3 separate regions of the Homo sapiens genome follow, and regions 2 and 3 are each linked to region 1. The links come from fine-mapping of genetic effects on gene expression. A gene starts in region 1. Each other region holds a variant in brackets. All regions are shown on one strand. Distances are from middle to middle.

The links. PIP is the estimated chance that this variant, and not a neighbour inherited with it, causes the effect.
Region 2: its variant is the best candidate, but not a certain one, in a credible set for the expression of SNX22 in lung (GTEx, PIP 0.64).
Region 3: its variant is the best candidate, but not a certain one, in a credible set for the expression of SNX22 in whole blood (TOPMed, PIP 0.58).

What each region holds. Positions count from the first base shown.
Region 1 is chr15:64,150,185-64,153,032 of GRCh38, reverse strand. It overlaps SNX22 (sorting nexin 22), which reads right to left and starts at 1,302. Exons shown (of 7, transcript NM_024798.3): 1 at 1,183-1,302; 2 at 707-790; 3 at 291-395. The coding sequence starts at 1,257. RefSeq lists silencers at 597-976, 1,177-1,616 and an enhancer at 2,534-2,643.
Region 2 is chr15:64,117,098-64,119,597 of GRCh38, reverse strand. It overlaps SNX1 (sorting nexin 1), which reads right to left. Exons shown (of 15, transcript NM_003099.5): 3 at 1,354-1,481; 4 at 744-810. Among named protein-coding and RNA genes, the nearest start is that of SNX1, 22 kb to the right of the region's middle. The variant C/A (reference allele first, on the strand shown) is at 1,313.
Region 3 is chr15:64,661,063-64,663,910 of GRCh38, reverse strand. All of the region lies in intron 3 of ZNF609 (zinc finger protein 609), which reads right to left. Among named protein-coding and RNA genes, the nearest start is that of OAZ2, 41 kb to the left of the region's middle. The variant AG/G (reference allele first, on the strand shown) is at 1,564.

The DNA.
Region 1 (2,848 bases):
ACCCTCACCCTACATGCCATCAGGAGGGCAGCACAGGACCTCACCATGGAGGGGACAGGACCTGGGTTTCATGGAGCTGGGACTACCTGTGTCCGTTACCTCTTTCAGTCCTTTCAACAAGCCAGAGGGGGGTGTTTGGACCTATATTAGACTCAGAAAATTGATGCTTGAGGTGGTGAATAACATCCCCAAGTTGTGGGTTCCCTCCCTGCCATGCCCCCACACCTCTCTGTCTGGGCCACACCCCTGGCACAGAAGGCCGGGGGGCAACCAACTGTGCTCTCGCATACCTGGATGTAAGCCTCCAAGCCCTGCCGGCGCTGTTCCAACCCTCTGGTCCTCCAGTTGGGCAGGCGTTTCGAGGGGAAGTCGGGCACTTTGTACAGCTTCTTGATCTACTGGAGGTTTACCGCGTGCGATCACAGCATCCCGACTGAGCCCTCAAGCCCTCTTCGCCCCAGCCAGAAGCCCTCCCGCGCCCCCGCCTTCGGGCTCTACTGGGACAGACCCTGGTGAGTGGTGGACCGGCCGAGGGCGAGGAAGGCCCCAACCCACCCACAGAGGCCCGGGGGCTGACCGGCTGCGCAGGGACTGAGGCAGTAATGGGGGTGGCGGAGGCTGGGGCTCGCCCGCCCGCCTCACAGGGCCTGGGCGGGGGCTGGACAGAGGCTGGGCCGGGGCCGGTGGGAGGTCGGCGCCGCCTCACCCGCTTGTGCAGCGCGTGGAACTCGCTGTAGCGCCTTGGCACCGTGTGTCTGCGCCCGCTGCACAGCACCTCCACTCGGAACACCTGGCGGCGCGGGCGGGCAGCGGGTCTGCGCGTGAGGCCCCGCGGGAGGACGCCGCAGCACCTGCGCCTGGCGACGTGCCCACCCTCCCGCTCTCAAAGGCACAAAGCGGCCTTGCGGCGCCGCGGCTGCCCGGGGACTCTCCGCTCCCGCACACCTGGGAGAACCGGCTGGCGGACCTGCCCCTCGGAGCCCTGGGGTCCCTCAAGAGCTCGAACCATGGTCCGCGAGGCTGGCAAATCCAAGCGGCCCCCAAACCCTCGACAAGGTTTCCCCCGACGGTCCAGCCCGCAGCGCTCGTTCACCCAGGCCCGGGCCCCGGGTCCCCACTGAGCGCAGCGCGGGGAAATCCTGCGGGTCCCGGCGCCCCTCCCCATCCAGGGGCCGCGCTCACCATGTGGCTTTTCTCCGGGCTCTGCCTGGGCCCCTCGGCCTCGGGCCCCACCGACGGGATGTGAACTTCCAGCATCCGCGCCCCGGCCCCAGCTGCTCCGCGCGCTCGGCTCGGAGCCCTAACTCTCCCGGAGCGGACTGAGGACCCCGGGGCGGCCGGCTCCGCCCCCTCGGTCCGCAGGCCCCACCCCAGGCCCCGCCCCCAGGCGACCCCGCCCCGGGCGTTCCCTTGCGCCGCGGGTCCTGAGCCTAGAAGATTAGGCGGGACCTGGACGCCGCCCCCGAAGTCTAGTGCGCCCACAGCGCGGGGCAGTGGAGTCAACCGTTTGTCAAACATTGACGGAGCACTCACTGATGCCAGGAACTGGCGAGCGAAAATGTCACCCAACCTGAGTTAAGCGCCTACCAAGGACGGCCTGTGGCTCCAGGCGCGGACGGAGGCGGGGCCCGGGCCTCAGCGCCGGTCCTGGGGCCAACCAGGGACCTGTCTTGGGTTCCTCAGTCCCTTCCCGAGCCTTTCCCTCCTTTCAGCCTGGTCCCTGAAATTGTGATCTGGATTCCCCGGCTGAGGCCACACCTGAGCAAGGCTTGGACCCAGTCCAGCTTTGATGCCCCTTTCCCCAGCATCCACAGGCCCCCCCATTCATTCATTGTTTTCATCCATCCATTCACTCATATCTTCCAACCCTAAGGGGCTCCAGGCTGTTTGTGGGGAAGAGGCAGTTTAGGGACCTAGACTCCGATTTGGACGTCAGACTGCCTGGATTTCAGGAGCTCCGTAGACCTTTGCTCATCTGCAAAATAGGGATAACGTGGCTCCTTCAGGCAAGTGTATAAAGTGAGATGATTTGGCCGGGCGCGGTGGCTCACGCCTGTAATCCCAGCACTTTGGGAGGCCGAGGTAGGCGGATCACCTGAGGTCAGGAGTTCGAGACCAGCCTGACCAACATGGTGAAACCCCGTACCTACTAAAAATACAAAAATCAACCAGGTGTGGTGGCACATGCCTGTAATCCCAGCTACTCAGGAGGCTGAGGCGGGAGAATCACTTGAACCTGAGAGGCGGAGGTTGCAGTGAGCCGAGATCAAACCATTGCACTCCAGACTGGGCAACAGCAAGACTCTGTCTTAAAAAAAAAAAAAAGTGAGATGATTCATGTTAGGCCCTTAACAGAAGCATTGAGCAGCAGCTTGACTGTGGGCTTCTCCTGGATGACTAGGATAAGTGGGCACAGGGCAGTGGATGGGAAGAGAGACTTTGGGGGGTGGCACCGGGTTGCTCTTGTCCACCCCTCCGGGCAGGTTCTTCCTGGATATGTGGCAGGATTTTGATCCAGAACTCTCTCAGGCCATGTGCTGGAAAGGACCTCTGCTCCCACCTCTCAGCCCTGCACCCTTCAGCTGTCGGAGAGCTGCTATCAGCAGCACCATGGCAGGTCCTCTACTCCACTGACTTCCCCCACAAAGGCCCCGTGACATGCAGAGAGGCGAGGCCCTGCCTTCCAAAGCTCATACGTAGTGGGAGGTCTTGGGGTGGGCAGGAGGAAGCAGAGTGCCTGTCTTCGGGGCTGGGGTTGAGGGGACTCACCCCTCCCCTGCTTCTGCAGAGACGCCTCTGAGCTGGAGCAAAAAACCTCCATCCCCAGCCCTGCCCCCAGAGAAGGGCT
Region 2 (2,500 bases), 33 kb after region 1:
CGCACACCACCATGCCTGGTCAATTTTTGCATTTTTAGTATAGATGGGGTTTCACCATGTTGGCCTGGCTGAACTCCTGACCTCAAGTGATCTGCCTGCCTTGGCCTCCCAAAGTGCTGGGATTACAGGTGTGAGCCACCATGGCTGGCCTGTTGGGGTTTTTAAAAAGAGACTCTAGCTGGGTGCGGTGGCTCATGCCTGTAATCTCGGTGCTTTAAGAGGCTAAGGCAGGAGGATCACTTGAGGCCAGGAGTTTGAGACCAGCCTGGGCAACATAGCAAGACCCCATCTCTTAAAAAAAGAATTAGTCGGCATGGTAGCACGTGCCTGCAGTCCCAGCTACTTGGGCGGCTGGGGTGGCTCAGGCGGGAGGACTGCTTGAGTCCAGGAGCTGGAGATGATAGTGAGCTATGATAGTGCTACTGTGCTCCATTCTGGGTGACAAAATGAGGCCTTGTCTCTAAAAAACAAAAAACCAAAAGAATAAAAATAAAAAGGGATTCTAGTAGTATTTGATGACTCTGATTTTTCTTCCTGAAGCCAAGAAAAGACTGACTAACGCATTGAGTAACAGCAGTCTCTGGCCTTAGAAACATAGCAAGGGGTCTACTTTTACAGAAAAGATACTAATGAAGTACTTCACATTGGCTAGTTCAACTCTGGGGGTAGCCATCCTGAAATTAGCTACCTATGCTTTCCACAGCCACATCCTAACATCACAAGGAGTCCTAAGAACCACTTACCTATCTTCTCAGGATCAGTTATACCGACTGTCAAATCAAATTGATCCTCCTGTTCTTCTTCCTCTAGCTTTTTCAAGAAAAGACAAATCATGAGAGTTGATATGAAAAAAAAAGCTATCAATTTTACCCTGTAATAACCTTATACCAATCTAATAAAATCAAGATGTATCCTTCAGTGTTCAGCTTTTGTCCATTCCCAACAATCCCAATGTACCAACTCTCAAAATTTTAAATTAGGAGCCAGCTTACAAGTCTTTGTTACATGTATCCCCTTAAAATCTTATTTTGATGACAATGAATAACTGCCAGATTTAGAAAGACTTGCCTCTTGCAGGCTAGGAAGGGAGTGAGGAGAAACTATACTCCTGAATGTGGAAGCTTCGCACACTAAGTATCTTTAGTAACCACTGAAAGCCTTCGTGCTCTCTGGGCAATAGATACTCTGCTCAAGAAAGACTCCTGTATTGGATTCTGGCTGTCCATTAACCATAAAGATCTCCTTCAAGAGTAACAAATATTTTCTCAAGGTTCATACTCAACTACACTTCAGACTGGCCGTACACAGTCCT[C/A]AATATCTAAAAGCGATAAGACCAAGAGCACAGATCCTCACCTCCTCATAGGTTGGCTGGGGCTTCGAAGAATTTGTGGCTTCCTGAGGAGGAAGAGAAATGAGTGTTTTGGCTAGCACCTTCTTCTGATTATTTTGTGTGCTGTCCAAGGATAGCTCCACTGTGGCATCTAAAATGAAGTTGATATTTTAAAATGAAGGTCAGTAATGAGTCTTTGAAGGCTAAACTTGTATAGGCTAAGAACTTACAAGAACAATAGCAAGCACTCTCAATACATAGAGGCTCTTAGACTGAAAGTCATAAAATGTTTACAAGGAGAAAAGGGGAGGAAGGTAAGGGAAGTGTTCTTCTAGCACAGGCTTAGTAGAACAACCTCTCCTTCTTTCCAAATACAACCACTTGGCTACCCTCTCCTACCTAGAATTTATACAAGAACCAAGGATAAGCAAAAAGACAACACAGCCAAAATAAGTTTATCAATTTTATTTATTTTTTAGACAGAGTGTCACTCTGTCACCCAGGTTGGAGTGCAGTGGCACGATCTGGGCTCACTGCAACCTCCACCTCGCAGGTTCAAGTGATTCTCCTGCCTCAGCCTCCTGAATAGGTGGTACTACAGGTGCATACCACCACAGCCAGCTAATTTAGTCTGTCAATTTTAATCTTCGGAGTATTCCTTTAGAACATTATATGAGCCCTATTTATTCTTGTTATAATTGTTTGTAAAAGGCTGGGCGTGGCGGCTCATGCCTGTAATCCTAGCACTTTGGGAGGCCAAGGTGGGAGGACTGCCTGAGCTCAGGAGTTTAAAACCACCCTGGGCAACATGGTGAAACCCCGTCTCTACTAAAAATACAAAAAAACAGTAGCCAGGTGTGGTGGCCTGAGCCTGTAGTCCTAGCTACTGGGAGGTTGAGGCAGGAGAATTGTTTGAACTGGGGAGGCAGAGGTTGCAGTGAGCCGAGATCGCGCCACTGCACTTCAGCCTGGGCAACAGAGGGAGACTCTGTCTCCAAAAAAGAAAAAAAATTGCTTGTAAAAGAAGTTCAGATATTTGCTTTACACACCAATATGATAGAAGAGGCAGGCATACTGACAGGAAAAAAATGACGTCAAAGCAAGTGTCAGGAAAGCTATAAGCTAGAAAAAAATGGAGCCAAGACACAAGCACAGTAACATTTGGGAAAG
Region 3 (2,848 bases), 510 kb before region 1:
AAACTCAATCCCAAAGCAGCACTGCTTTGTTTCAGATAATAATTCAAAACCTCAAAACATTTGTGTAGTCAAGGCTGATCCAAGTATAATAGTAGAAAGAGAGAGAGAGATTTTTTTCTAGGCCCCTCATTTTTACTATTTCCATTAGTACATACTTTCTCTCAGGGATCTGGTACCTTCATGCTCAGCTCCTTCATGCTCAGACCAATTCCCTTCTTGAAACGCTTCCTTCACTTGGCTTCCAGAACACCATACTCTCCTGGTTTTCCTCCTATCTCTCTGGTCATTCCTCAGCATCTTTTGCTGGTACTTCATGTGTAGCTGATGACTCAAACTTCTATCCCTAGCCCCAACCTCTCCCCTAAACTCCAGATTCATGTATCTAATCACAAACTTGACATTTCCATTGGACGTCTAAATGGAGATCTCAAACTTAATATGTTCCAAACTGAGCTCCTGATACCCATCCTCTCCTTAACAACCCTCTCCTCCAAGAACAACAAAAACAACTTGCTCTGAATTCTCCCTATCTGAGGTAATGGCATGTGTACATCCTTCTAGGTGTTCAGGTCAAAACCCTTAGAGTTTTACTTGGTTCCTCTCCTACTATCCATGTCCCCACACCTGACCATCAGCAAATCTTTTTGGCTCAACCTTCAAAATATATCCAGATTTTGATCATTTCTCATTACCTCCACTTCTACTGCTCCAAGCACTCCTTAAATTATTGCAATAGCTTCCTAACTTGCTTCCATCTTTATCACTTTCTGACCTGTTCTCAACACAGAGACCAGAGAGATCCTGTTAAATAAAACCTCTCATATCCTATCATTTCTCTGTATAAAACCTTTTAGCTTTTGAACTCATACATACAGGTATAGGTGATACATACATCTGTATGTATCACCTATTCCCAAAAAAACACATAAAAATAGTTATTAGTTAGCCAAGCACGGTGGCTCATGCCTGTAATCTCAGCAATTTGGGAGGCCGAGGCAGGTGGATCATCTTAGGTCCGGAGTTCAAGACCAGCCTGGTCAACATGGTGAAACCCCATCTTTACTAAAAATACAAAAATTAGCCGGGCAGTAGTGGCGCGTGCCTGTAATCCCAGCTCCTGAGGAGGCTGAGGCAAGAGAATCGCGTGAGCCTGGGAGGCAGAGGTTGTGGTGATCCGAGATCGCGCCACTGCACTCCCGTCTGGGCAACAGAAAGAGACCCTGTCTCAAGAAAAAAAAAATTATTAGTTTTAGTAGAAATATCTCAATGTTTTAAAAATGCTTCATGGCCAAGCATGGTGGCTCATGCCTGTAATCTCAGCATTTTGGGAGGCCAAGGTGGGAGGATTGCTTGAGCATAGGAATTCGAAACTAGCCTGGGCAATGTAGTGAGACCCTGTCTCTAAAAAATTCTTTAAATTATCTGGGCTTGTTGGCATGTGCCTGTAGTGCCAACTACTATGGAGGCTGACATGGGGGGATCACTTGAGCCCGGGAGATCTAGGCTGTAATGAGTTGAGATGTTGCCCCTGCACTCCAGCCTAATTCACAGAGGAAAAAAAAA[AG/G]ATGGGGCCTAATTCTCATCCCCTGGAGTGTGAGCTGCCTTTAGCAACTTGCAGAAGTGATGGTGCATGACTTTTGAGACAAGGTGATAAAAGGTATTATTGGGGGTTCCTCCTTGCTTTCTCTCTGGGATTTCTTCCCTTAGGGATGACAGCAGCCATTTTGTGAGAACACTTAAGCAGCCCTATGGAGAAGTCCACGAGGCCAGCAACTGAAGCCCTCTGCCAATAGTCATGTAGTGAAGCAACTTGGAAGAGGATCCTCCAGCCCCAGATATGCTTTCAGATGATGGCAGCCCCAGTCAACAACTGACTACAACCTCATGAGAGACCCTGAGTCAGACCACCCAGTTAAGCTACTCCTGAATTCCTGAGCCACAGAAACTCTGTGAGATAATATTTATTGTTTTAGACAACTATGTTTTAGGTTAATTTGTTACATAACAGATAACCTGGAATAATGTCTACCCTAGGTAGACAAATAATTCATTCCTACCTTGAACGAATATTTATTGAGCATCTATTATTTGCCAAGCATTCTGTGAAGTATTGAAGTTACAAAAACAGTGAAGAAATGCTGAGGTCCACTCCTGGGTTGGCAGCAAATGTTTATTAAGAGCCAACTTTATGGAATGTGCTGGACTAAGTACTAGAGAATAAGGATAAATAAGGCCAGATGCTTGCCCTCAGCATAAGAGACAACAAAAGAGAAAGGGGAAGAGATGAAGTGTACCTGAATATTCCAGTAGCATTGAGTTTCCAAATGGAAACATCAGCATTTGCCTATATGCTGCTTTTAAATCTTATTTTAATCCCAATTTTCAATCCTGATTGATGTTGACAACTATACCCTAACTGGATACAAATACACCCTAACTAACCAGGGTAAAGTACAGATTAGCACACATACATGCTTTCATTCATTCTATTATTCCACAAATGAGCACCTACTCTGGGCCAGACACTGTTCTCAAGTACTGGGACATGGCAACACACAAAACTGACCAAGTCTCTGCTCTTACATTCAGATAAGAGGAGAAAGACAATAAATAAGGGAACATGTAAGCATATGTCAGATAGTGATACGCGGCCAGTCGTGGTGGCTCACACCTGTAATCCCAGCACTTTGGGAGGCCAAGGCGGGAGGACTGCTTGAGCCCAGGAGTTCGAGACCAGCCTGGCCAACATGGTGAAACCCTGTCTCTACAAAAAATACCAAAATTAGCCAGACATGGTGGCACACGCCTGTAGTCCCAGCTACTTGGGAGACTGAGGCAGGAGAATCAC